Linked DNA regions of Homo sapiens: all the other regions are linked to region 1. The links come from fine-mapping of genetic effects on gene expression. A gene starts in region 1. Each other region holds a variant in brackets. All regions are shown on one strand. Distances are between the middles of the regions. Region 1 holds the start of GFRA2 (GDNF family receptor alpha 2). Region 2 overlaps DOK2 (docking protein 2). Region 3 has its middle 25 kb from the start of DOK2.

Evidence for each region.
Region 2: its variant is fine-mapped to the expression of GFRA2 in whole blood (INTERVAL, PIP above 0.99).
Region 3: its variant is fine-mapped to the expression of GFRA2 in whole blood (TOPMed, PIP 0.98).

Annotation. Positions count from the first base shown.
Region 1 is chr8:21,784,434-21,792,609 of GRCh38, reverse strand. GFRA2 (GDNF family receptor alpha 2) reads left to right here and starts at 3,735. Exons shown (of 9, transcript NM_001495.5): 1 at 3,735-4,490. The coding sequence starts at 4,451.
Region 2 is chr8:21,901,577-21,909,717 of GRCh38, reverse strand. It overlaps DOK2 (docking protein 2), which reads left to right. Exons shown (of 5, transcript NM_003974.4): 5 at 1-845. The coding sequence ends at 407. Among named protein-coding and RNA genes, the nearest start is that of DOK2, 8.0 kb to the left of the region's middle. RefSeq lists an enhancer at 5,031-5,859. The variant T/C (reference allele first, on the strand shown) is at 3,836.
Region 3 is chr8:21,884,586-21,892,765 of GRCh38, reverse strand. No RefSeq gene overlaps it. Among named protein-coding and RNA genes, the nearest start is that of DOK2, 25 kb to the left of the region's middle. The variant C/T (reference allele first, on the strand shown) is at 4,227.

The DNA of each region.
Region 1 (8,176 bases):
CTCCCACTGTGCCTTTGTTTTTTTCAGTATCTTCTCATAGCTACACGCTTGACTCTATAAATGCTTTCAGGGGAGGGGCAGTCTTGCTGTATTCCCCACAGCCGTTGGCCCTGCTGGGGCCAGAGAAGTCGTTCAATAAGTCTGTGCTGATGGATTGATTGTGGGGTGCCCTGGATCAGGCTCTGTCCCATGGCAGAGGACACTTCCACCTTGCCAGTTCTGTGGCTCCTGACAGTATTAGCTGGATGTGAGGCACCTTCTTTTCACTCCTGGTCGATTTTTATCTCTGGGGTCAGGGAACCCTCAGCCTTCTTCCCTTCACAAAGGAATAAGATTGTGGTCAGTGAGCAGTGTGGCCCAGGCCTAGGTGCGCATGTGTGCGTGTGTTGGGGTGGGGCTGCAACGCCCTCCCCTCCACTGGTCCTTCTTCCCTCTCCTGCTATCCAGAGAACCCACTCCATAAGCAGAGAGGACTAGAGAGATAAGAGAAAGGGAAGGAATGGAAGGATTCGGTGTTGCCTTTCCCTCCCCATGCAGATTTGGACTCTAGGATCTGTGATGGGGAGGGGCTGTGGGCAGGAGGCTCAGCTGCTGGTGAACTCAGGAGCACTGGAATGAGCCAGGAAGGCTGTAAAAGGACTCAGGCACTACGGAATGTGTGGAAGTCTGTTGGTGAGCCTAGGGCTTGCCTCCTACCTGCTAGAGACTTCACATTTTCCTATGACTACCTCTTACGACAGCTGCTTAATAGTCTCTGTTGCCCTTGAACCCCTGTAGCTTTTTGTTTCTGCTTCTCATTTGCCCCTTAGGTTTTATTGCCTTGTCATAGGTCCCTAATTCTTCTTCTAGAACCCAGAGCAAAGCAGTAAACAACTTTATATGGGCCAGGCATTGTACTAGCCGCTTTGTGTAGTATCTTATGTAATTTCTACAACGTTGGTTTATCTTTTTTAATCCCCATTTTATAGATGAGATGACTGAGGTTCAGAAGTCCTCTTATCTATAAGGTGTTATAGTACATGTTCAACTGTGTTTCCTCTGTAGATCCCGGCACAAGGCAGGGGGTCTTCCTCATGGCAGATGCTCAGGAAATAAGGGATGATGCCATTTTTAAGAGCAGTTTGGGTTGAGTGTTGGGGTGGGCAGAGGGTGGGGTGTCATGGGATACGTCTGTATAGGCAGTAGGTAAGAGAGGGTCCAAGGTCAGAGTGCCCTGCAGTCACACAAGCTGAATGCTGGTGGTGACTGATTGGTGTTCTCTACTGTTCTTGGGATGGCTGGGTGGTCTTGGGTCGCAGAAGGGCCACTTACCTCCTGCTACCGGAATCCTCTTTCCTACTCCCGTGGGAGCTCAGTGAGAACCATCCCCAGGGCTTCATTGCTGCTTTCTCAGCCCCATTTTCTGGATAGGTGGGAGGGGAGAACTACATATATGATTCAGAGAATTTCTCTCATTATGCTCAAATGAAGTTAAAAGAAAGTGAAATTCTTTTTTGTGGGGAAGGGGAGAGGGATATGCTGAGCAGAAATTCTGGAGTTTGGAGCAGGGTCCTTGGAAGGGGGAAGGCCTGCGTGAGATTCCGAAATGGGTGGTGGTGGGGAGTATTTGGACAACCAGAAGACCCTGGAAGTCGAGGAGATGAGAGGGGGGACATTCATTTAGGCCAGGCTCCCAGCCTCGGGCCTCCAGGCCAAGCCTGCCTGGCAGTGTAATTCCTGTCAAGTTTTATCTTTTAACCTACACTTATCCAAAGCCGGTTCCTTATGCTCCCCAATTTTTGGAAAAAAAGCCAAGAGACCTTGTCAGATGCGAAGTCACTTCCTAGAACATGAGAGGCTTGGAGGAATGACAGGGAGGGCAGGCCTGAAGGGGGCTTTCCCCAACTCCAATCCCTAAGCCCTCTGTCCCAGACTCGTCACTACCCAGCTAGGGCCTAGGCTCGAAGCAGGCACAACTGGATGGCTGGGGGAGAAGATGGAGGGAGGAAGGTCGATGCCCCAGGACGGACCACAGGAAAGAGGCGTTCACAGGAGACTCGCTCTCTGTGCTTCCAAGGCCGGGAGCAGCCGCCTTCCCGCCTAAATCCTCAAGATGGAAGTTGCTCCCTCTAGCTTTCCCAATAGCTAAGGCTGCTGGTTTTGTTAGTGACCCCTCCCTTCTCGTCCAAGTCGATTTCTAGCATTTACTGGATTCCAGAGTCTTGTTATTTAAGAATGCATCTTAAACGGTACTATCAAATTCATGTTACGTGCAGCCCAGATTGTTTTGGGCAGCACGAAAAGTTTCTGAGGCGCTGCGTGTACCCCACCCCAGGACACCGTGTGTGCGCGCCGAGCTGAGTGCGAGGAACGTGGCGCGAGGGCCGGGGGATGCCGGGCTGCGTGGGTGTGAGCCCTCGCGCGACCGCGACCCCGCGCCTCTCCCGCTCTCGCCGGAACGTGACCGCAGCCGCACCTCTCCTCCAGCCCTTTCCCAGCCAGACGCTTCCTTTTAGGTCCTTCTGGGCGTTTATTGTAAATTCTGCGACTAAAACACGCCGGTGAGCCCGGCCCACCGACAGATGGATCAATCGCCCCCTTCCCGGCTAGGGGAGGAGGAACCCCCCAACCCCGGAGCCTAGGGAGCCGGGAGCTGCCTCGGGACGAGCTCCTCGGAGCCCAGCCGGCTGCGGAGCCCCGGCCCGGGTCGGTCTCGGGGCCCTCCTGCCGGGGTGGGGTGCGAGCCCCTGCCCGATTCCTCTGGGGCGGTTCAGGCAGGTTTGCCGGCCTCCGAGGAGGTGGTCAGGGCGCCCTGGCCCAGCAGGCTTCTTCCCGAGCCGGGGGGAGGGGAGACCGGCTGGGGAAGGGGCATCTCGAAGGGGTGGAGGCCGGGGCGGGCGGGAGGCAAGCGCGCCGCGGGCGTGAGGGCAAAGTTCCCGAGGTCCGCGCGGAGAGCACACGTGTATGTGCGCGCGGGGCTAGGCCGGGGCCGGCAGGATGCGTTGGGTTCGGGGGCGCGCGGGGCCGGCGCCGAAGGGGATAATTCCTTTCCCTGGCACCATCGGGGAGACGCTTTGTCGGCCTCGGCTCCTGGGCGCAGGGACGCCTTAGCCCACGGAGGGTGGAGCCCCCCTCAGACCCGGGCCACCGGCTGGGGTTTTTCTAACGCCCTGCCCCCCGAGCCCCCGGATGGCTCGGGCCCCACGGACTCCGCGCCCTCCAGCCTCAGCTCAGCTCCCCAGGCTTCCCAGACCCAGCGGCGCAGGGGGCGGGGGCAGGGGCAGTGGGGGTTGGAGGGCGCAGCCGGTCCCCAGGGTGGGGAGAGCTGCGGGGGGAGGAGGAGGAGGGTGCCGACGCTTGAGTGGGTTCGAGCCCGAGCCGTAGCCGGGGGAGCCAGTCAGTTTCCGGCCAAGGCAGCAGGTCAGTCCCAGGAAGGGCGGGCGATTGAGCCGAGGGAGCCGGCGGCTGGGCTCTCCTCTCGGCCCGCGATCCCCGGCGCCGCCGCCGCCGCCACCGCCACCGCCACCGCCTTCGCCTTGTCGCCGCCGCCGCTGCAGAGCATCGTAGCTCCGCCGCGCTCCCGCGCCCCGCGCCCCGCGCCGCCAGCCGCCTGGGAGCCCGAGCGCCGAGCCCGGGGCGGAGGAGAGGGGCGCTGGCGCGAGAGCCCGGGCGAGGGAGCCGCGAAGGGAGAAGGGGGCGGGCGGAGGGAGGAGCAGGGAGAGTGGGAGAAGGGGGAGGGAGAGAGGAGAGCGAGGGAGAGCTGGAGAGAGCGAGAGCAAAGAGCGAGCGAGGGAGAGGAGAGAGAGAGAGAGGAGAGAGAAAGACACACGCACGCAGAGACACACGGTCACTGGAATTCCATTAGAAAAAAGTGAGCCGAGCAAGGGTTAGCGGGAGAAGATTTTTTTGAATCTTGTCTTCGTCTTGGTGCGAAAGAAGCGACTCCAGTCTCTCGTCCTCGAAGCTCCGACTGGATTGTTCTTGGGCGCTGACACCCGTCTGTGGATTTCTTTTCTATTTGCATTTTATTCCGACCCCCTCCCTCGCCGCTTCCTTCCAGCCCTTCACTCGCAAATCGCCTCTCTCCCCACCTCCCCAGGCCCCTCCTGGGAAGCGCAGGGGAATTGGACCCGCGGGGACTCACGCCTTCCCGGACGATTGGAGGGGAGGGCTGACCCCAGGACTGGGCTGTTGGCTTAGAAAGCCGATACACAGATACGCGTATATTTGATTGTAGCGGGCAAGGGGGGCGTCGAGAGGCAGCAGCCCATCGCCCGCCTCTCACCCCACCCCCTCCAGCCAGAGGCGAGAATCGCAGGACTCGGGATCTTCATCGGGTGGACTAGCTGGGATCTCCGCATTGGATTTGGGGCTGATTACCACTGCTTGCCTATTATTATTGTTGTTGTTACTACTATTATTTTTTTTTACCCAAGGGAGAAAGACAAAAAAACGGTGGGATTTATTTAACATGATCTTGGCAAACGTCTTCTGCCTCTTCTTCTTTCTAGGTGAGTACCTGCGGGCGGCGAGCTCGAGGGGGAGGCGAGAAGCCGGGGAGGCGGGGGGCGAGCGGAGCGCCGGTGGGGGGCTGGCGGGAGGTCGGCGGGGAGAGCGCGCCGCGGAGCTAGCCGGGCCCGGTGCTGGCGAACCGAGCGGGGCCGGGCGGCAGGGACGCGGACGAGGGACCGGAGCCGCGGCTGGCTGGCGACGCAGGGGGATCGGGAGGGAGACTCAACATCCGAACCAGCCCCGCAGACACTGTGCACGCACACACACACCCGCGCTCGCTCACACGCCAGTATAGCGCGCATCTCCCCCGAAATAATGGGTTCGAATTGCGGCAACTTAAGAAAAAAAAATATCCAACTCTTGATCTGCAAGAAGGGAGGGAGAGAGAGGCTCCTAGGCGGGGAGAGAACAGTCCTGCGGGGTCCGCCTTTCCTGGTCTGCTCCCCGAGTCGGTCGTGGTGGAGGGCGCGGGTTTCTCCGGCGGCTCCCGCTTGGACATCGCGCGGGGAGCGCTGGCAGTCACTCCCCACCTGCCAGCCGCGCCTGGCAAACGGAGCCCGCGTCCCCACGCCCTGAGCCCCTAACCGGCGGCTCCACTCCCCGGAACACTTTTCAAGTTTCTCCCCACCGAGCCCCGAGCCAGATGGGTGGGCGGGAGCGGAGGGTTGTGAGCAGCCGTTCCCGGCCTTCCCTCCTCCACCTCTGGGGGCCGCGGACCCCCGTGGCTGGTGGGAAGAGGCGGGAGGGAGGCCAAAGTTTGCTTTCTCCGTTGAAGAGGGTGGGAGGCGAGGGAGGAAAAACGGGTCTGAACAAAGACCACTGCTCCTTCTGCAAACCCCCCCCACTGCCCCCCCCGCCGCCTCCAAGACAGGGAGGAGAGGCTGCCTGGCGCCACTGAGCCCCACGCAGTTTCTTTTCCACACAGAATTCCCAGCTCCTCTCTCCCTTTAAAGCTAGGTGAAATCGCAGCTGCTTGGGAAATGGCAATCTCCGGAGGGAGGTGAGGAAAGGCGGTTGTTTGCAAGGCTGTGCACCACCGGGAGTCCCAGGCAGGGCTGCTGCCAGGGAGTAGACGCTCCCATAGAGGGAGCCGGGTAACTACTGTGTATGTGTGTGTGTGTGTGAGTGTGTTTGTAAGGAGCACACGTCTGCTTCAGTGAGGGTGTAGTTCTACCACCTTGGCTTGCTGTGTAGCCAGTGTTGAGCCAGGCTGCCCAGCGGGGTCATGATCTCACCCTCTCCCTCCTGCAGTAGGGGATCTGGGAAGGCCACGAGTGGGGAGGTAGGAGCTGGTTACAGGAGGATGTGCGTGGTCTAAGAAGTGCTCGCCAGACTAGGATAGGGGACCGGAGTCATTGGGTGTCCACACAGGCTCTGGACTCTCTGCCTGTCCCCTCTGCTTCCCGCCAGGTGCGAGTCCCCAAGGGGGCAAGTCCCTGCTCTAGGGTGTGGCCTCAGAGGTCCTACCTCCCTCAGCCAGAGGCAGCTTCTCTCTGGGGTGGGAGGGGCTCCTCTAGGAAGCTGGAAGTTGCTCTGGGCCCGCTGTGATCCCGAAGCCCTTCCTGTCAACCCTGGCAAGTGGACTCTCATTCTGAAGGGGCTACTATAAAATCTGACCTTTTTCTCCCACTGCTAGCTTGAAAACCCAGCCTTCTGGGTCCAAGCATGATCAGGGCCAAGGTGAAAAAAAAATTGTATTTCAGGCAAAACAGCCAGATTGCCTACTGCTGAGCTGCATACCCCAGCATGGGCAGGGCTCCCAGGTGTGGGCACCATCTGTGGTCGGGGGCTGGAGAAGAGCAGTGTGGGCCCCTGGTCATTGCAGGCAGGCTTTCTCCAGCCGGGCAGGCTAAGGAGTCCACCTTTCTCCTTTTCAGAAGTGGCTGGGGTTCCTGCTCGTGGTGGGTGTGTATGTGTGTGCATGGGAGATGACCAGAGAGGCCCAACCCAATGTCTGCAACCCTGGAGGCTGAGTGTTGAGAGGCGGGGGTGAGAGCAGAAGAGCAGCAGGCTCAGCATCCCCTTGCTCCACAGCCCTTCAGTTTCCTTCCCTCGAGAAGTCCCCTTCTAAAGCTGGGCTGAGTGGAGTGACCACAGATACTGAAAGGCTTTGGGTTAGGCCAGTGGAAAGGAAGGGATGGGTTGGTGTTTAGGAAACTTCAGCCCTGGGGCCCTTTTCCTGGCAGGAAGCTGGTTGAAAATCCCACTGGGTGGGTGGGTGGAGGGTCGGGGGAGGTTTTTCTGGGGCTTGAGACTTGGTGGGCAATTTCAGCTGGGGGCAAAGGCCTTTGGTGTGCCCCTACTGAGATTCTGAGTGAGGTCTGGGCTGGATAACCCATGGTGGAGAGAGAGGCCTTTCTTGCCCAGTATCTTGACCTCCAGTGCTGACCCAGGGAGAGAAGGAGAAGGGGAAAGTGACTCGGGTGGGGGTGTTGGGCTGGCCAGAGGGGGCCACTTCCGACTGACTTTCTAGCACACATTCTAGCTCTGGTGGGATGTTGGATGCAGTAGGGCAATTGTAGCCCTGTGTCGCTTCTCCACCCCCCTCTACCCCTGTGTCTCTAGCAGCTACTCCCTGTGTCTTGATGGATCAAAGTTTTCTCCTAATTTAGGATTTGGAAACATCACCAGGACACCCCCTGCCCTTCACTCTCTTAGGATTCTTAGCTAAAGGCTGCAGGCTGCAGGGATTCCTTTCTCTGGCTGGGCTTGATTGGTTCTGGGGGTCATGGAATGAACTAGAAGAGTCAAGGATGGTTTGGTGAATGGATGCCCCGGCCCTTCGCAGAGTGTGTCTGTTGCCTGGCCACACGTGCCAGGTGGCAGGATGGGGGAAGCCCTCAGTTCTGGCACGGGAGCCTCCCTAAGATTGTGTAAGGATCATCCTGTGGGGCTCTAGGCCCAACTGTAGGACAAGCAAAAAAAGCGTCCTTATGCCCTGAATCCCCTGGGCTAATCTTCTGACCTTTAAGCACGCGGTGAATTCTGTGCCTACAGAAGGCTAAGGAAGCCAGGAAGTTCCATTTCCAGGCCCCCATGACAGTGCAGCCTTCAGTTCAGTCAAGGTGGGAGGGCATTAGCCTATGGGGAGGCGGGGTGGTTAAGTCAGTGGAGGGCCCAGGGTTATATTCTTCCAGAGGCTCCCACGGGCTGGCTGGGGGCCGCAGGTACAGGCGGGGCCGTGTCAACTCAGCTGCTCTTGGGGGGCCCGGCTGTACGCGGGTCCTGCTCAGGGAGGTAGGAATCTGCTGAAGCCGGGGAAGAAAGACGCTGCCTCAGCTTGTGTGGAGGACAGCTCTCCAGCCAGTGCCGGGCCTCAAACTCCGGTCTGATTTCTTCTCTGGTCTTGTCTCAGCCTGGCCACATCCATCAGCCTTCCTGTTCTGTGGCAGAGGTCTGGTCAGTGGGAGAAGGGCACGTCTTTTGCTCTGGGCCCCGAAGAAGCCTTCTGTACCCCAGGCCCATCCCTGCTGTTCTTCTCTGTTGTCCCCTAGGGATGGGTCTCCTGGCTGGTCCCACCGGGAGTGGATGGATTCCTGTTCTCTGGGGGCTCTCGGGAGCGAAGGCCCGCTGTGCAGCGCGCTGCCTTTAGGTGTCGCTGTCTCCCTGCGGTAGCGCTCCCCTGAGCAGGGCCTCCCGGGGGATGGCCTGAGAGTGGCTGTTCTGGGTAGGGATGGGGAATTCT
Region 2 (8,141 bases), 120 kb before region 1:
TGCCGCCGCCTTCACCCACCACACCGGTGCCTGCTCCACGGCCTCGGGGCCAGGAGGGGGAGTATGCCGTGCCCTTCGATGCGGTGGCCCGTTCCTTGGGGAAGAACTTCAGGGGCATCTTGGCAGTCCCTCCTCAGCTCCTGGCCGACCCTCTGTACGACAGCATTGAGGAGACCCTGCCCCCTCGACCTGACCACATATACGATGAGCCCGAGGGAGTGGCTGCCCTGTCCCTCTATGACAGCCCGCAGGAGCCCCGGGGTGAGGCATGGAGGAGGCAGGCGACAGCTGACAGGGACCCTGCTGGCCTCCAGCATGTCCAGCCAGCCGGGCAGGATTTCTCTGCTTCTGGCTGGCAGCCAGGAACTGAGTATGACAATGTTGTACTAAAGAAAGGCCCAAAGTGACAGAGGCAGCAGAGGGATGGTCCACCGCCCCTTGGCTTCTGCTGGTGACTCCTCCTGGCCACTGCATCAGAAGAACCTCCTCTGCCCCTTCTGGAGCCCGAGGCCTGGCCTGTCTTCGTTGGGGCTGATAAATTGCCTCTCCCAGGGCCTGCTGGGTGAGTCACCATCCCAAAGCAGGAAGGGTGCCCTGGAGAGAACCACCCTCCTCCTACTCTTTTTCCACTTCCTCCTCTTTCTTTCCCCAGCTGAGGAGGAACCTGGGGCATTTAGGGCAGAGGACAAAAGGATGTCAGCAATTGCTTGGGCTGCTTGGCTATGCAAGCCTCCTGCCTGCTGATGGCCACTTCAGGGACAGCCTGGGCCCAGGCACCCAGGGGGATGGCGGCAGCTTCCTGCACCTTTCAGATTTCTTGGTGGCATTAAAGCATTTTCAGAACATTTCTGTGTGGCATGAATGCTGTGGGAGTGAAGTCTCCAACTGACCAACCTTGATCACATCCTCTCCCAGCTGCAAGATCCCCCTGGGGCCTAGGCTGAGCCCCAAGCATCTGCTCACAGAGGCCTCTAGAAGTCAGTCAGGGTGCCCTGGGAATAGTGTTCAAGTATGTCTCCCTTTTGCTGGGAGAAGGTCAATGTCAGAAAAATGGTGGGGGAAGCACGGGGGAGCGGGGGGCGAGCCAAAGTGCAAGGAAGGAAATAATTGGATTGATGGAGCCTCTTGTACACCAGGAGTGGGAGTCACCAGGTGTGTGGTCCTGGGCCCTTTCGCTTCCCTGAGATTTCTGCACATCTTCATAAAATGAGGGGGTTGCCCCATGTGGGCAAGGAGGAGCCATCCAGCTCTGTGATTCCCATTGGCTCTGGGTTCCTAGGTCCCCACACACCATTTCCCCACAGGTCAGCCTGTGTCCTTGTGCTTGCTCCTCTTATCAAAACCTGCTTTCCCAGTAGGGTGTGTCCATGGACTTCAGCTATCAACCCAGTCCGCCGACAGCATGGGCACTGTTTGTGGGAGGCTGTAGACTGCATGGCCTGTGAGAGACACACTGCCCAGAAGGGGATGAGATGAAACAAGGCACAGGTGTCTGTCACAGAGTGGGTGTGAGTGCCACAAGGGACCAGACAGGGCCATGAGTGCCAGAGAGGTAACTATTTGTTGGGAGCGCAAGAAAGGCTTCATATCAAAGGTACCATTTAAGGTGGGCATTTACGGGTGGGAAGGAGTTCCATGGAGATAAAGGGGGTGTGAAGGAGCATCTTGGATAGGAATGGGAGTGTAGGTGAAACCACGGGGAGGTACGGATGTGTTGCTTTCGGGACGGAGTTCTACGCTCAGAGTGCGGGTAAGGTGACACAATCTAGTTGGGAAGGCAGATTCTGACTGTATTAAGGGGAATTTGTACCTAATTAGAGGGAAAGGTGGAACGACTAAAGGCTTTTGAACAGGGAGTCCCATAAAAGCTGAGCTTTAGGGCAATAACCCGATAGCCCTGTGGAAGGTGGACTTGGGGTGGGAGGGGGTAGGTTGGGGCTGAATTGAAAAGGGGAAATTCTGCCAGGCACGGTGGCTTACACCTGCAATCCCAGCACTTTGGGAGGCCGAGGAGGGTTGATCATGAGGTCGGGAGTTCAACACCAGCCTGTCCAAGATGGTGAAACCCCATCTGTACTAAAAATACAAAAATTAGCTGGGCATGGTGGTGGGCACATGTAATCCCAGCTACTTGGGAGGCTGAGGCAGGAGAATTGCTTGCAGTGAGCTGAGATTGCACCACTGCACCCTACTGGGTGACAGAGCAGGACTCCGTCTCAAAAAAAAAAAAAAAAGAAAAAGAAAAAGAAAAAGAAAAGGGGAAATTCATCTGGGCACCGTGGCTCACACCTGTGATCCCAGCAACTTGGGAGGCCAAAGTGGGAGGATCACTTGAGCCCAGGAATTCGAAACCAACCTGGGCAACATAGTGATGAGACCGCGTCTCTATAAAAACAAACAAACCAACAAACAAACTTAGCCAGGTGTGGCGGTGCATACTTGTAGTCCCAGCTACTTGGGAGGCTGAGGCTGGAGAATCATTTAGCCTGTGCAACAGAGCAAGACCCTGGCTCAAGAAAAGTGGGAAAGGGAGAAGTTCAGAAAGGACTGGATTCAAAAGATGGTGTAGAGCTAGCACCTGTGGATCTTGGACTCATAGTGGATGTGGAACACAGAGAAAGAGGGTTTCTAGAGAGACTCGGGTTTTTTTTTGTTTGTTTGTTTTTCCTCCTGAGATAGAATCTCACTCTGTCACCTACGCTGGACTGTAGTGGTGTGATCTCGGCTCACTGAAATCTCAGCCTCCCGGGTTCAGCAATTCTCCCACCTCAGCCTCCCGAGTAGCTGGGACTGCAGGCGTGCACCACCACACCCGGCTAATTTTTTGTATTTTTAGTAGATATGGGGTTCCACCATGTTGGCCAGGCTGGTCTCAAACTCCTGACCTCAGGTAATCTGCCCACCTCAGCCTCCCAAAATGCTGGGATTACAGGTGTGAGCCACCACGCCAGGCTAATTTTTGTATTTTTTTTTAGTAGAGACGGGATTTCACCATGTTGGCCAGGCTGGTCTCAAACTCCTGACCTCAAGTGATCTGCCCACCTCGCCTCCTAAAGTGTTGGGATTACAGGCGTGAGCCACCGTGCCCGGCCTGAGACTCAGGATTTGGGAACAAGATGAACTTAGTTTCTGATGCGATGAGATGGAGATGGCTAGTATTGATCCGGCAAGACGAGTCCTGAAGCTGGGTGGGAGAGCTAGCGCTTAGGAGGGAGAGGGGCGTAGACTTAGACATGGACGTTGGCCTCCCAGGTGTGCTGTGACCTCTGTTTCTCCTCTCACCGTGGCCTTTTCCCTTGTTGAAGGAACTTGAGCAATGGATCAGCTGCTTGGAGAGACCCAGTGAGGGGCCTTCCTGTCTGTGTGGAAGGTGCCCCCTGGTACCCTCCCTTTCCAGCCTCTGGATCACTAAAGGCTGGAAGGCCCCACTTCCAAGGATTTTACTCTTCCCCCTCTTCAGGCCAGCAGTGGGAGTTGGGGTTTCTCTTTGGCAAGGTAGCCACGTTTCCGATTTCCTAAGGTGGCATTTGAAGTGGCTGTCCTGGCTTAGCCCGGCAGGGGGCGGTGTTAGCCTGTGGAAAAGGCCACTGGGGGGCTTTGCCACCACCAGCCTTGGGGGCTTGGCCCTGAAGGAAGGCATTTACTACCCGAAGGGCTTGGGGATAATCTGAGGAATCTGCATGTCAGAGCTTGTCCCTTCAGAGCCTCAGAATCCCACTCCCAGATGTGTGGACCCTGCCTTCAAGAAGTTTGGGGTCCTAAGCTGGACATTGCCCTTTCGTCCCCTCTCGCCACTTTCCAGATCTAGGGACTTGGGTTCTTCCATACTAATGCT[T/C]TCTGTGCCATGCAAGGGGAAGTGGTTGATTAGGGCCCTTGGGAAAGGTGGGGTGAGGGCTGGAGGGACAGGGGAAGTAGCTTTTGGGGAAGTTGGGAGGGGTAATGAAAGTCCTTAAGACAGTTGTTGAGAAAATGCTGATCATGCCATCAGGGTCGCTCTCAGAAGATTTGATCCAAGGGGTGTGCCACCCTCCAGAGAATGGTGTCAGTGCCACTACAGCCAGCCTCAGCTGCGCCATGGTCATCTGTAATGTGTACCTTCCTTCATTCAACAAATGTCATGGGCCAGGCATGGTGGCTCATGCCTGTAATTTCAGTGCTTTGGGAGGCCGAGGTGGGAGGATTGCCTGAGCCCAGCAGTTTGAGACCAGTCTGGACAACATAGGGAAACTCTATCTCTACAGAAAAATTAAAAATTAGCTGAGTATGGTGGTGCTTGTTTGTAGCCCCAGCTACTTGGGAGGCTGAGGTGGGAATACTGCTTGAGCCCAGGAGGTTGAGGCTGTAGTGAGCTGTGATTGAGCCACTGCACAGCAGCCTGGGGGACAGAGTGAGACCCTATCTCAAAAACAAAAACAACAAAAAAGCAAATGCCCTGGAGCATCTGTCATGGACCAGTCCCGCCTAGGAGCTGGGGAGCAGCACAGACCCATCCCACCCTCGAGGGGCCTACAGTGTGGAGTGGGCAGGCAGATGTTCACTGAACACAGGAATGAAGGAGCTTGCTTGAGGGATCACCCTTCTCAAACAGACACACGGTGGTGAGGGCCTCCTTGGAGGGTTCTTTTCTTTCTTTCTTTTCTTTTTTTTTGAGATGGAGTTTCGCTCTTGTAGCCCAAGCTGGAGTGCAACAGTAAGATCTCGGCTCACTGCAACCTCCACATCCCAGGTTCAAGCAATTCTCCTGCCTCTGCCTCCTGGGTAGCTGGGATTACAGGCACCCGCCACCACACCTGGCTAATTTTTTGTATTTTTAGTAGAGACGGGATTTTACCATGTTGGCCGGGCTGGGCTGGAACTCCTGCCTTCAGGTGATCCACCTGCCTCGGCCTCCCAAAGTGCTGGGATTACAGACGTGAGCCACCACGCCGGGCCTCCTTGGAGGGTTTCTATGCCACCAGGATGCTCAGGGGCAAATTCATATGTAAGGAAACAGCTGCCCTCAAAAGGGGACAGGGCAATGTCACAGCAAGTGATTGATCCACCCAGAAGGGCCTCTTGAAGGCTCCAAGGTCCGAAGTCAGACAGCTGTTGACACCATGAGGTTTGCTGTGACCAGGATTCTTATAAACTGGTTTCATTGCTAGTTATTATGCAGAGGTGACATCGGGGCAGGTAAGGATGGCTGCATGACTGGCATCTAGCATAGAGATGTGCGCACGCAGCACACAACATCATTTTTCCCGTTCCTTTTCTGCTCTGCTTCTCTTGCCTCCCCTTGGATTTTCTTTTTCCAAAGCAGAGAAGTGGGGTGTGTGTGTGTGTGTGTGTGTGTGTGTGTGTGTGTGTTGGCCTGTGGTCCATGGTGTAAGCCTGTGACAGTGGGGGTGGCCAGGCCGCCCCCCACTCCCCACCTCGTGAGTTCTCCCCCTGGAGCTTCAGAATCTACAAAGGCCCAGCTCCTTGGCTCTCTCTGCTCCCGCAGGCTCCTCCCTGACGACTCCAGTCAAGTTTTTGCTGTCACTGCCTTTCATCCGTGATGCTAACCAGCCTCCTGCCTCCTGCCTCGTGGGTGCAGACTCAATTAGCCAAGGTGCCCACAGCCTGCAAGGGCCATTTATAAAACCAGCTGGGGTGGCTGGAGACCTCAGGCAGGACAGGGCTGGGAAGTAAGTGCGGGAGGTCCGTGAGCTGTGAGGAGGAGGGAGAGGAGCCAGAGGAGCTGGGAGGGGGTATCTGATCTGATTAGGCCTCAAGCTGGTTTCCCCATGGCAGGAGGCTGTTCATCATTGCCCTGCTCCCATCTTCAGCTCCCGGGCGGATCCAATGCCGGCCAGCATGGAGCAGAACCCATCAATCTCCAGGCTCTGGCCAGGCCTGCTTCTCTCCTCCTTGCCTCCCTGCCACCTCTGGAACCCTGTGCTTTTTTTTTTTTTTTTTTTTTTTTTTTTTTTTGATGGAGTTTTGCTCTTGTTGTCCAGGCTGGAGTGCAATGGCATGATTTTGACTCACCGCAACCTCTGCCTCCTGGGTTCAAGTGATTCTCCTGCCTCAGCCTCCCGAGTAGCTGGGATTACGGGCATGCACCACCACGCTCGGCTAATTTTGTATTTTTGGTAGAGATGGGGTTTCACCATGTTGGTCAGGCTGATCTCGAACTCCTGACCTCAGGTTGTCCACCCACCTCGGCCTTCCAAAGTGCTGGGATTACAGGCGTGAGCCATCGCGCCCGGCCTGCTTTTTATTTTTTTGAGACAGGGTCTCGCTTTGTCACACAGGCTGGAGTGCAGTGGTGTGATCTCGGCTCACTGCAACTTTGACCTCCGGGGCTCAGGTGATCCTCCTACCTCAGCCTCCCAAGTAGCTGGGGCTACAGGACAGACCTGCCAACCATACTCAGCTATGCACCACACCCAGCTAATTTTTTGTATTTTTTTGTAGCGACGGGGTTTTTCCATGTTGCCCAGGCTGGTCTCAAACTCCTGAGCTCAAGCCATTCACCAGCTTCAGCCTCCCAAAATGCTGGGATTATAGGTGTGAGGCACTATACCTGGTCAGAACCCTCTTCTTGACTCTAGCTCCTGGATCCCTGAGCCAGAGATGGCTGGTCGGGGGCGGAGTAGGGCAACAGACTGGGAAGCACTGGGTTCTGACAGACTTGTGAGGGAGATGGGGTCTCAGTGCTCTGCTAAGTAATTCGGGGACCTGCATCCAGGGCGGGGTTGGCCTTGTGCGTCCAGGTGTTTGATCGGGGAGGGGTGGGTGGGGTGGAGTGAAAGGTGTGCCGGAGGGGGCGCCAGCATTTAGGATGATAAGAATGTTCTTGAGTTTATACAGCGCTTTCTGTTTCCAAACTGCTTTGGGGGCAGTTGAGCGTGGACTGTTAAGCACACAGACCATAGCCTGACTATCTGGGTCCAGATTCTGCTTCTGCAACTTGCTAGCTGTGTCTCTGGGTAGCTGCATCTGTTTCCACATGTGAAAAATGGAGATGATGATAATATGTGTCTTGAAGGCTTGTGGTGAGGATGAAATTGAGTGAATAAATGCCCAGCTCGGAGAAGAGTGCCTGCCACACACAGAGCTCCGGGATTATCCATGATCTCATTTCACCTTCAACAGCTCTGCCAGGTGGGCAAGGCAAGAAATCCCTGTCTTACCAACAAGGCAATGGAGGCATAGAGGAGCAGAGACCTCCTTGTCTTTGGAGGGTGAACTGAGGCTTTGCGGGTGGAAGGACTTGGTTGGGAAGGAGCTAGGCTTTTGATAGGAAAGCACAAAAGCGGAAGAGTATTTCAGGAGAGGTGAAGAGAGCAGCATGAATAGCTTTTCAGCTGCTGGACATGGGGGCTTTAGCGGGGGCAAATTTGCACACCAGGGCAGAGCAATGCTCGAGTGGCCTATTATGCCCAGGAATGGGGGAGCCGGGAAGGGAAGATGCTTCGTAGACTAGAAGACCTTTGGCTTCAGGCAAGGCTGGAGAACAGGCAGCCACAGCGGGGGCTTTCCTCCTTTCATCTGAGCTGCCACATCCATGCACGGTGCAGCAGGTGGCTCATCGGGGTGCAGAGGCAGGTTCCTTGCTGGGCAGAAGTACCTGGTTCATTTGGCAGGGCTCACCAACTGATGTGATCAATGCAGACCCCTGGGGCCGCTGCCCTGCAGCCAGCCAGAGGAGCCCTGGGAACAGTAACAGTTCTGAGAGGAGGAAGCTGGGGAGGGGGTGGGCAGAAAGGAGCCAAGAGAACATTCAGAAGGAGTTTGCCATCTCTCCTACTAGACTGCAAATGTTCAAAGGGCAGGGTTCATACTTTACCCAGTCCATTGTTCTATCCTTGACACTTAACACAATGCCTGGCACTAGGTAGGTACAAATAACTGTTTCTTGATTGGAAAAATAAACGAAGCCCACTTTGCCTTTGAGGAACACAGGTGATCTCCAGTGTGTAATGAGCTGTGGTGCTCTGGAGGACTCTCTCTCCATAAATACACCCCTACAGATGCCAAGAATCCCACCATTTACATTTTGGGAAGAGTGCCTTCCCTCTCCTAGCAGGCTTCTTTTAAAATGCAGATGCCGTGGGGTGAGGCATCACTGGAGTGAATGAGGTCTCCAGGGCCCCCAGAGGGTGAGAATGGTCTAG
Region 3 (8,180 bases), 100 kb before region 1:
CCCCAATCCCTTTCTTTACTGGTAGCAAAACAGGCCTAGAGCAGGAAAGAGGATTTTTCCAGATCCCACAGCTACAGAGGGAGGACCAGAAACCTGGCCCCCAGGACTCTCAGTGCAGTCTTACCCTGTGGTTCTAGTAAAAGAATAACAATAGCAATTGCTTACTGAGCATTTGATCATGCCAGACGTTTACTGTTCTAAATGCATCCTATGTGTTAACTCGTTAATTTTCACAAAAACCCCTTGAGGTAGGGATAATGGCTATTACGTCCCCATTTTCCAGATGGGGAGCCTGAGACATGACACTTCAGCAACTTATTGAAGGTCACAGAGCTTCTATGTGGGCAGCAGGGATTTGGAAACCCTGCAGTTTGCTCTGGGGTCAGTGCTCTTACCCTTGGAGGTGACGTGGACTGCTGGGGTCTACTGATTTCCTGGCTAAGGTAGGGTGTGGCCCAGTGGCCCCTGTCTGAGCAGGGTTCTGGCCTGTGTGAGCTCTTCTCACTCCCAGAACCCTTCATGCTCCCCGACAGTCCTGTCAATTCTCCAGTGCTCCTGTTGCTTAAGACTTTTTTTTTTTTTTTCTGAGATGGAGTTTCGCTCTTGTTGCCCAGGCTGGAGTGCAATGGCGCGATCTCGGCTCACTGCAACCTCTGCCTCTTGGGTTCAAGCAATTCTCCTGTCTCAGCCTCCTGAGTAGCTGGAATTACAGGCATGCACCACCACGCCCGGCTAATTTTGTATTTTTAGTAGAGATGGGGTTTCTCCACGTTGATCAGGCTGGTCTTGAACTCCCGACCTCAGGTGATCCTCCCGCCTTGGCCTCCCAAAGTGTTGGGATTACAGGCGTGAGCCACTGAGCCCGGCCGCTTATGGCTTTTTGTAGATCCTCGGGGAGCGATGTGATGGCAGCTGAATACTGGTGAACAACTGGCTCTGGGTGTGGGAGATGGGAATGCTATCACATGTAGCATTTACTGATTTCCATGGTGTAAATATTCCCACCGTGGCCTATTTCAAGCTATCAATGGGATGTCAATTGGCTTACAAAACTCCTAAAAGATCTTGCAGTCGGCTCTCAGTACAGGCAGACTGTAGTATACCACTGTGACAGCCTCCCCACTTTGCAATACTGCCTGAAGACCCCCTAATCCCTTCCCATTGCTGCCTCACTCACCGCCTCTGATTAGACTGCATTCACATAAACGGGTATGATTTGAACATTCTCATCTTGGGAGGTCTGAAAACGGTTTTATTTCCTCTGCTCAAAAAGAAATAATAATAAAAGACTCATGGAGTGCTTCCCACTGTAATCATTTCCTGGAAGGGACTTTGGTGATTTAGTTCAAATCCTGGCTTTACAGATATGGAAAGTCCGCCCATAAAGAGTCTTCTCCAGGGAAAGAGTCAAGGGACTTGACCAGAGGCAGACAGCCAGTAACTCACAGAGCCACAGCAAGAAACCAGGGCTAGGGACCCATGGTCCCCTGGCTCACTCTTTTGCTACATCTTAGCGCCGTTCTAGGTTCATGGGGACGATTTGAAGGCAGATAAGAAATGCACCACTCAATTGGGAATATCCCAAACATAAAACAATCAGAAAAAAATGCAAGATGGTATTTCGCCCCTGCCATACCAGCCTAGGCTTTAAGCCAGTATCTTAAATGCTTCGAGTCTTAGCTCTATCATTTTAAAATGCAGATATTATTAATACTTACCTCACATTTCTCACTGGGGGATTGCGAAGATAAAGGAGATAAACGGCTAGCAAAGTACATTTAGGGTAAGGAAATACAAATAGCTCTTAAATGTATATAAGCACGCTGAACCTCATTGAAAATAAGAGAAATGTAAATTAAAATTACACCAATAAGCAACTTTTTCACCTATCCAATTGGAGAAAGTCCAGGAAGTTGGTAACACAGTTATAGTGGAGTTGTAAGGAAATAGATAGTCTCCTATCTCTCATGGGAAGATAAATGTGTATAACCTCTAGGGAGGGCAGTTTGGCAATATCTATCCACGGTTTAAATGTACATATCTTCTGACCTAGCAATCCATTTCTGGGAAATTGTCCTATAAATACATTTGCGTAAGTGCAAAGGATTTGTTTATGGCTACTTGTTACAGAATGTTTGTGATGGGAAAATATTGAAAAGAACGTAAATGCTGGGTAAGAGGGTTCTCTTTAAGATATTTTGTTTTCCCACACAATGGAGTATTATGCAGCTATAAAAAGGAAGGAGACAGAAAGCTTTGTACTTGTGTATAAGACATACCATCAAATGAAGAAAAGCAAGGCACAGAACAGTGTGTATAGATAGCATGCTACATTTTGTGTTTAAAAAGCAGAGAGGCCAGGTGCAGTGGCTCACACCTATAATCCCAGCACTTTGGGAGGCTGAGGAGGGAAGATCGTTTAAGGCCAGAAATTGGAGACCAGCCTGGGCAATGTAGTGGGATTCCATCTCCAAAAAAATAAAATAAAATAAAAAGAGGGGAAATAGAAATATTTACTCATGCATACAGAATGAAACTCTAGAAGGATCTCTGAGGAAGTAAAAACAGTGGTTACCTGTGGGTGCCGAGGCTGGGGTCGGGAAGGATAGGAGATGAGAGTAACAGGGAGACTCTTAACTGCCTTTTAATACAGATTTCTAAATTTTGAGCCATGTCAGTGTACTAACAATTCAAAAATGTAAACTAAACATTCCTTTGTAAACTGCAAAGCACTGTGCAGATGCTAGTTACTTGAACTATTACTAATATAAAAATGAGCTAAATTGTATGGCTAAGATTACAGTCTGTAGGAGGCCAAAAGGAGAATGCTTGTGGGTTCTGGAGGGGCAGAAGTTAGAGTGGGGATCTCAAAAGAAAAGTGGTCCTCGGTGTTTTACTAGAAAGTGATGGTCAGAATGCAGTGGTGGGCCAGGTGTTGGTGGCCATGACTGCTTCTCCTGCCCAGCTCGATCACTGTGATGGCTGCCTGTCACAGCTGAACTGTCTCACGCATGACATGCAGCTTGTTTGGGTGATGGTGCTGAGACTCCACAGTTTGCCCAGGAGTGCTGGCTCCAAAGCTCTGGCAGCTGTGCTGAGCTGAAGAGCTGTTACCATTAAGTCTCCTGTTGGGCATGAGTGTGTGTGGCTGCTGCACCCTGATTAACCCATCTGATCCTCTCACAATGCATTCAGGCAGGTGCTGTGATGGTCTCCTTTTCACAGATGATAAAACTGAGGCACAGAAGAGTCAAACACTTGACCCAAAGATCAGCAGTTGGTGGTGACTCTAGGCAGCCGGGCTGGGGAGCGATCCTCTCAACCACCACACACCACCACCTCCCCCACGTGCTTTCCCTTTCTCCCACTGTGCCTGGATTAGGGTACCACCGGGGATCCAAAGGGAGCCTCCTGACTTGCTGTTAGGTGGAAAGCAAGCATCACTAGTCAGGGGGGACCCCTTTGTCTCTGCAGGGTCTCACGTAGGGCAGGCACAGCGTAGGGCAAATCTGTGACTGCTCAGCCCATTGGGCTGTCTGCCTTTGGGACACAAATCCTGCTATTTCACCTCTTCTCTCTGAAGGGCATTAGAGCACCACCTTCACCCCATCCCTGGGCCTCTTGACATCCCAGAGGCAAATCCTAGCAGACAGAGGCCTCTTGTCAATTAGAGGAAGGCAAGGGCTTTGCTATCTGTGGAGGGATCGGGAGAGGTGGGGGTGCTGGCAAAGTGAGAGCATCATGTCTCCAATTAAAGTTCTGAGGATTCATCTTCTAACTCAGCCCCCTTCAGAAATTGACATTTATTAGGTTGTCAAAGCTGATTTTTCTTCTTGGCCCTTTCCTGTCGCCAACTGTGTTTGTGTGTGTGTGTGTGTGTGTGTGTGTGTGTGTGTGTGTATACACGGACATGAATGTAAATAAATACCTATATTTTGCTTTTCAAAAATTAAAAATGCAGTATTTATCCCTATCAGAGATATGATTTCCTGATTCCTGATGGAATGGAAGGCCACCCAAGGGGTCAGGGCAGGCCTCGTGGGGCCCGAGGGGGTCTGAGACAGCGGTAGGCCTACCATCTGGAGGTGAAGCCGGCCTCATGCAGAGGCAGCAGTTACTGGTTGCTGACTGTGTGATTTTACAACTGCCTCACCCAACCATCCTAAAAAATCTCTCTCCCCCACATGCCACTAAACCTGGAATTTCACTTTTGGGGGCTCATTCCT[C/T]TGAATTTATTCATCTTTTTACTAAAGTCTTTTTTAAAGTGTAATGTGAGTCCCTAAGAGGGGAACACATTAAATTGCTAACATCCCAGAAGCATAGAATTCTGAGCAAAAAGATACCCTGTTGTCTTATCTTCTCTTGTAGAGAGGAAACTGAAGTCTAGAGAGACTAAGGGATTTGCCCAAAGTCACTCATCACGTTAGTGACAATGATGGGGCTGTCACTGAGTTCTCTAACTGCAAGCTCAGTGGAGGCTAGTTTATCAGATTTGCTTTCCTTTTCTTTTCCTCTCTCTCTCTTTCTCCCTTTCTCTCTCCTTCCTTCCCTCCCTCCCTCGCTCTTTCTTTCTTTCTCTCTTTTTTCTTTCTTTCATTCTCTTTCTTTCTTTCTTTCTTTCTTTGTCCTTCCTTCCTTCCTTCCCTCCCTCCCTCCCTCCCTCGCTCTTTCTCTCTCTTTCTTTCTCTCTTTTTTTCTTTCATTCTTTTTCTTTCCTTCTTTCTTTCTTTCTTTCTTTCTTTCTTTCTTTCTTTCTTTCTTTGTCCTTCCTTCCTTCCTTCTTTCCTTTCTCTTTCTTTCTTTTTCTTTCTTTCTTTCCTTCCTTCTTTCTTTCTCTCTCTCCTTCTTTCTCTTTCTCTCTCTCTTTCTTTCATTTCACTCTGTTGTCCAGGCTGGAGTGTAGTGGTGCAGTCATAGCTCAATGCAGCCTTGGAACTCCCTGGCTCCACAATCCTCCTCCTATCTCAATCTCCTGAGCAGCTAGGACTTGCAGGTATGTGCCACCGTGTCTGGCTAATTTTAAAATTTTTGGTAGAGAGAGGTCTCCTTGTGCTTCCCAGGCTGGTCTTGAACTCCTGGGCTAAAGTGATCCTCCAGCCTTGGCCTCCTAAAGCGCTGAGATTACAGGTGTGAGCCACAGTGCCCGGCCATATCGGTTTTCTTTGGAGACAGGAAGAAGCCTGGCTGGATGCAGGTCCTGGGCCTCCAGGTGAGGGAAGGCAAATGAGAAGGGGAGAAGACGGGAAAAAGGTAAGACCAATGTGCAAATAATTTTGCCCACTTTGTACTTTTTCTAATCATTGTATATGTTGTCATTTTCATTTTAATCTTTTGCATTTATGATCTGGGACATGAAAGGAAGAGGCGCAGTGGCTATCTGGTCTTGGATTTCTTCAAGATGGCATATGAAAAACTTTAGTTACCTTCCCCACATTCACTATTTTTGCCATGTTTTCTCGCCAGTTCTATTAATGTGACATAATATTTTTTCATTAAATTAACTCATTTTTAAACTTGGTTTATTTCTTTGAAAAGGAAATTTGTTTTACTGTTGTGCAAGGAAAACCTGTTATCACTTGTTAGAAATCGATGGTAATCATACAAATACATACAATGGAATCCAAACAAGGTTATTAAAATTTAGTTTGGTGCCTCTCTTGCTGAAAGCTCTTAGCCTGTGGACTGTTTTCTCTTTGCAAAAAGGAAAATTAGCAAGTATCAGAAAGGCATGAAAAACCCGCAAGCCCCCAAGTGAGACTTCCTCCCTGAGGTCATTAGGGTCTGTATTGGCTTCCCAGGTTTGCCATGGACTGGGTGGCTTGAAACTACAAACATTTGTTGTCTCACAGTTCTAGACACTAGAATTCTAAAATCCAAGTGTCAGCAGGCCATCACTTTCTGAGAACCGTAGGAGAGAATCCCTCCTTGGCTGTCACAGCTTCTGGTGTTTGGTTGACAATTCTGTGTGTTCCTTGGCTCGCAGCCCCTTAGCTGGAATCTCTGCCTTCCTGGTCACGAGCTCTCCTTGAGTGCTTTTGTCTTCACAGGGCTCTCCTCTCATTATAAGGACAATGGGCCTATTGGCTTAGGGGTCTACCTATTCCAGTCTGGCTTCACCTTAACTAATGACATCTGCAACAATCCTATAATATTTCCAAATAAAGTCATATTCTGAGTATTAGGGGTTAGGATTTCAACCTCTGTTTTTGCGGGGGACCCAATTCAACCCATGACAGGGTGTTTGAAAAAGCATTGAAAAGGGAGAACTTTTTCATGGTGTGGACAATGCCACTGAATGCCTGTCCAAGGGCCACCAGTGAGACCTGACTCCTTGGGGAAATACTGCATTATGGGGCTACGAGGAGGCTGTGAGCTCCCCTCATCTCTCAGAGGCAAGTGGCATCCTTCGGGCCTAAATGGGCCTTTGGTAACTTGGTTCTGGGGCCAGTAGGTGCCCTGAAGTGGGGGTGGGTGCACTTGAGGAGGAGCAAACAGCCCCTCATTGACCACAAAATCAACACCGCAGAGATTCTTTACAAGCAGCCAACATTTACTGAGATCCTTTTGGGGACAAAGACTCCTGTGTCCCTGGTTGTCTGCTCTCTTCAGTGTCTGGTCTCACAGGCTCGTCACTGGCAGCACAGGCAGAAGAACAAAGGGAAAGGGTGGGCCAGGTGTGGGGACTGGGGAGGAGGAGGAAATTCTGTACTCCTGAGACAGTGGGGCAGCTGCAGCTCCAGGAGGACCATGTCAGAGGGACAGGCAGGCCCTTGTTGAGCACGTTCATGAACAGAAGCAGCAGAAGTCCCTGTTCTCCTAGAGCTGTGCTAGGGTCGGGGGAGGGGAAGCAGATGATATGCCAGGTGGTGAGAGTGATAAGAAGAAAAATAAACCAGGCTGAGGGGAGAGAGAACATTCCCTGCGGAGTGAGCGGCGAGTGGACAGGAGGAGCACCTCACGCTTCCCTTGCAACAGGGGAGGAGGCCGGCGAGGCTGGGGCAGAGTGGACGAGAGGAAAGAGGCAGGAAAGGAATGGAGAGGCAGGGGGTCCTGGCAGTCCCACCTGGGTAAGAATGATTTATTCCATATTAAATGCCTAGGCAAGAGTTTGAGTAGAGAAGCCAGGAATCTGACTTATTTTTTTTCCATTATTTTATTGTAATAAAATATGCACAACATACAATGTACCATCCTGACTTTTTTTTTTTTTTTTTTTTTTGAGACTAAGTGTCGCTCAGTCACCCAGGCTGGAGTGCAGTGGCACAATCTCGGGTCACTGCAACCTCCGCCTTCTGGGTTCAAGCAATTCTCCTCCCTCAGTGTCCCGAGTAGCTGGGACTACAGGCACGTGCCACCATGCCCAGCTAATTTTTGTATTTTTAGTAGAGACAGGGTTTCACCATGTTGGCCAGGCTGGCCTTGAATTCCTGACCACAAGTGATTTACCTGCCTCAGCCTCCCAAAGTGCTGGGATTATAGGCATGAGCCACTGCGCCCAGCCCATCCTGACCATTTTCAAGTGTTCAGTTCGGTGGTATTAAATACATTCATAATGCCCAGCAGTCACCACCATCCATCTCCATTACTCTTTCCATCATATCAAACTGAATCTCAGTACCCATTAAGCAACAACTCCCATTTCCTTCCCTCCAGCTGCTGGTAATCATCATTCTACTGTTTGTCTCTGTGAATTGACTTCTGTAGGGACCTCATATAAGTGGAATCATACAGTATTTGTCCTTTTGCATCTGGCTTATTTGACTTGGCATAATGTCTTCAAGGTTCATCAATGTCATGGCATATGTCAGGATTTCCTTTTTTGAAAATTTTATTTTTAGAGACAGGGTCTCACTCTGTCACTCAGGCTGGAGTGCAGTGGTGCAATCATAGCTCACTGCAATCTCGACCTTCTGGGCTCAAGCCATCCTCCCACCCCAGCCTCCTGAGTAGCTGGGACTTACAGGTGCACACCAGGCTAATTAAGAAAAAAAACTTTTTAGAGATGGGGTCTCACTGTGTTGTCCAATCTGGTCTTGAACTCTTGGGCTCAAGCAGTCTTCCAGCCTTGGCCTCCGAAAGTGCTGGGAGATGTGATCCACAGCACACAGCCCAGAATTTCCTTTCTTTTTTTCTTTTCTTTTCTTTTTTTTTTTTGAGCACAGAGACTTGCTCTGTTGCCC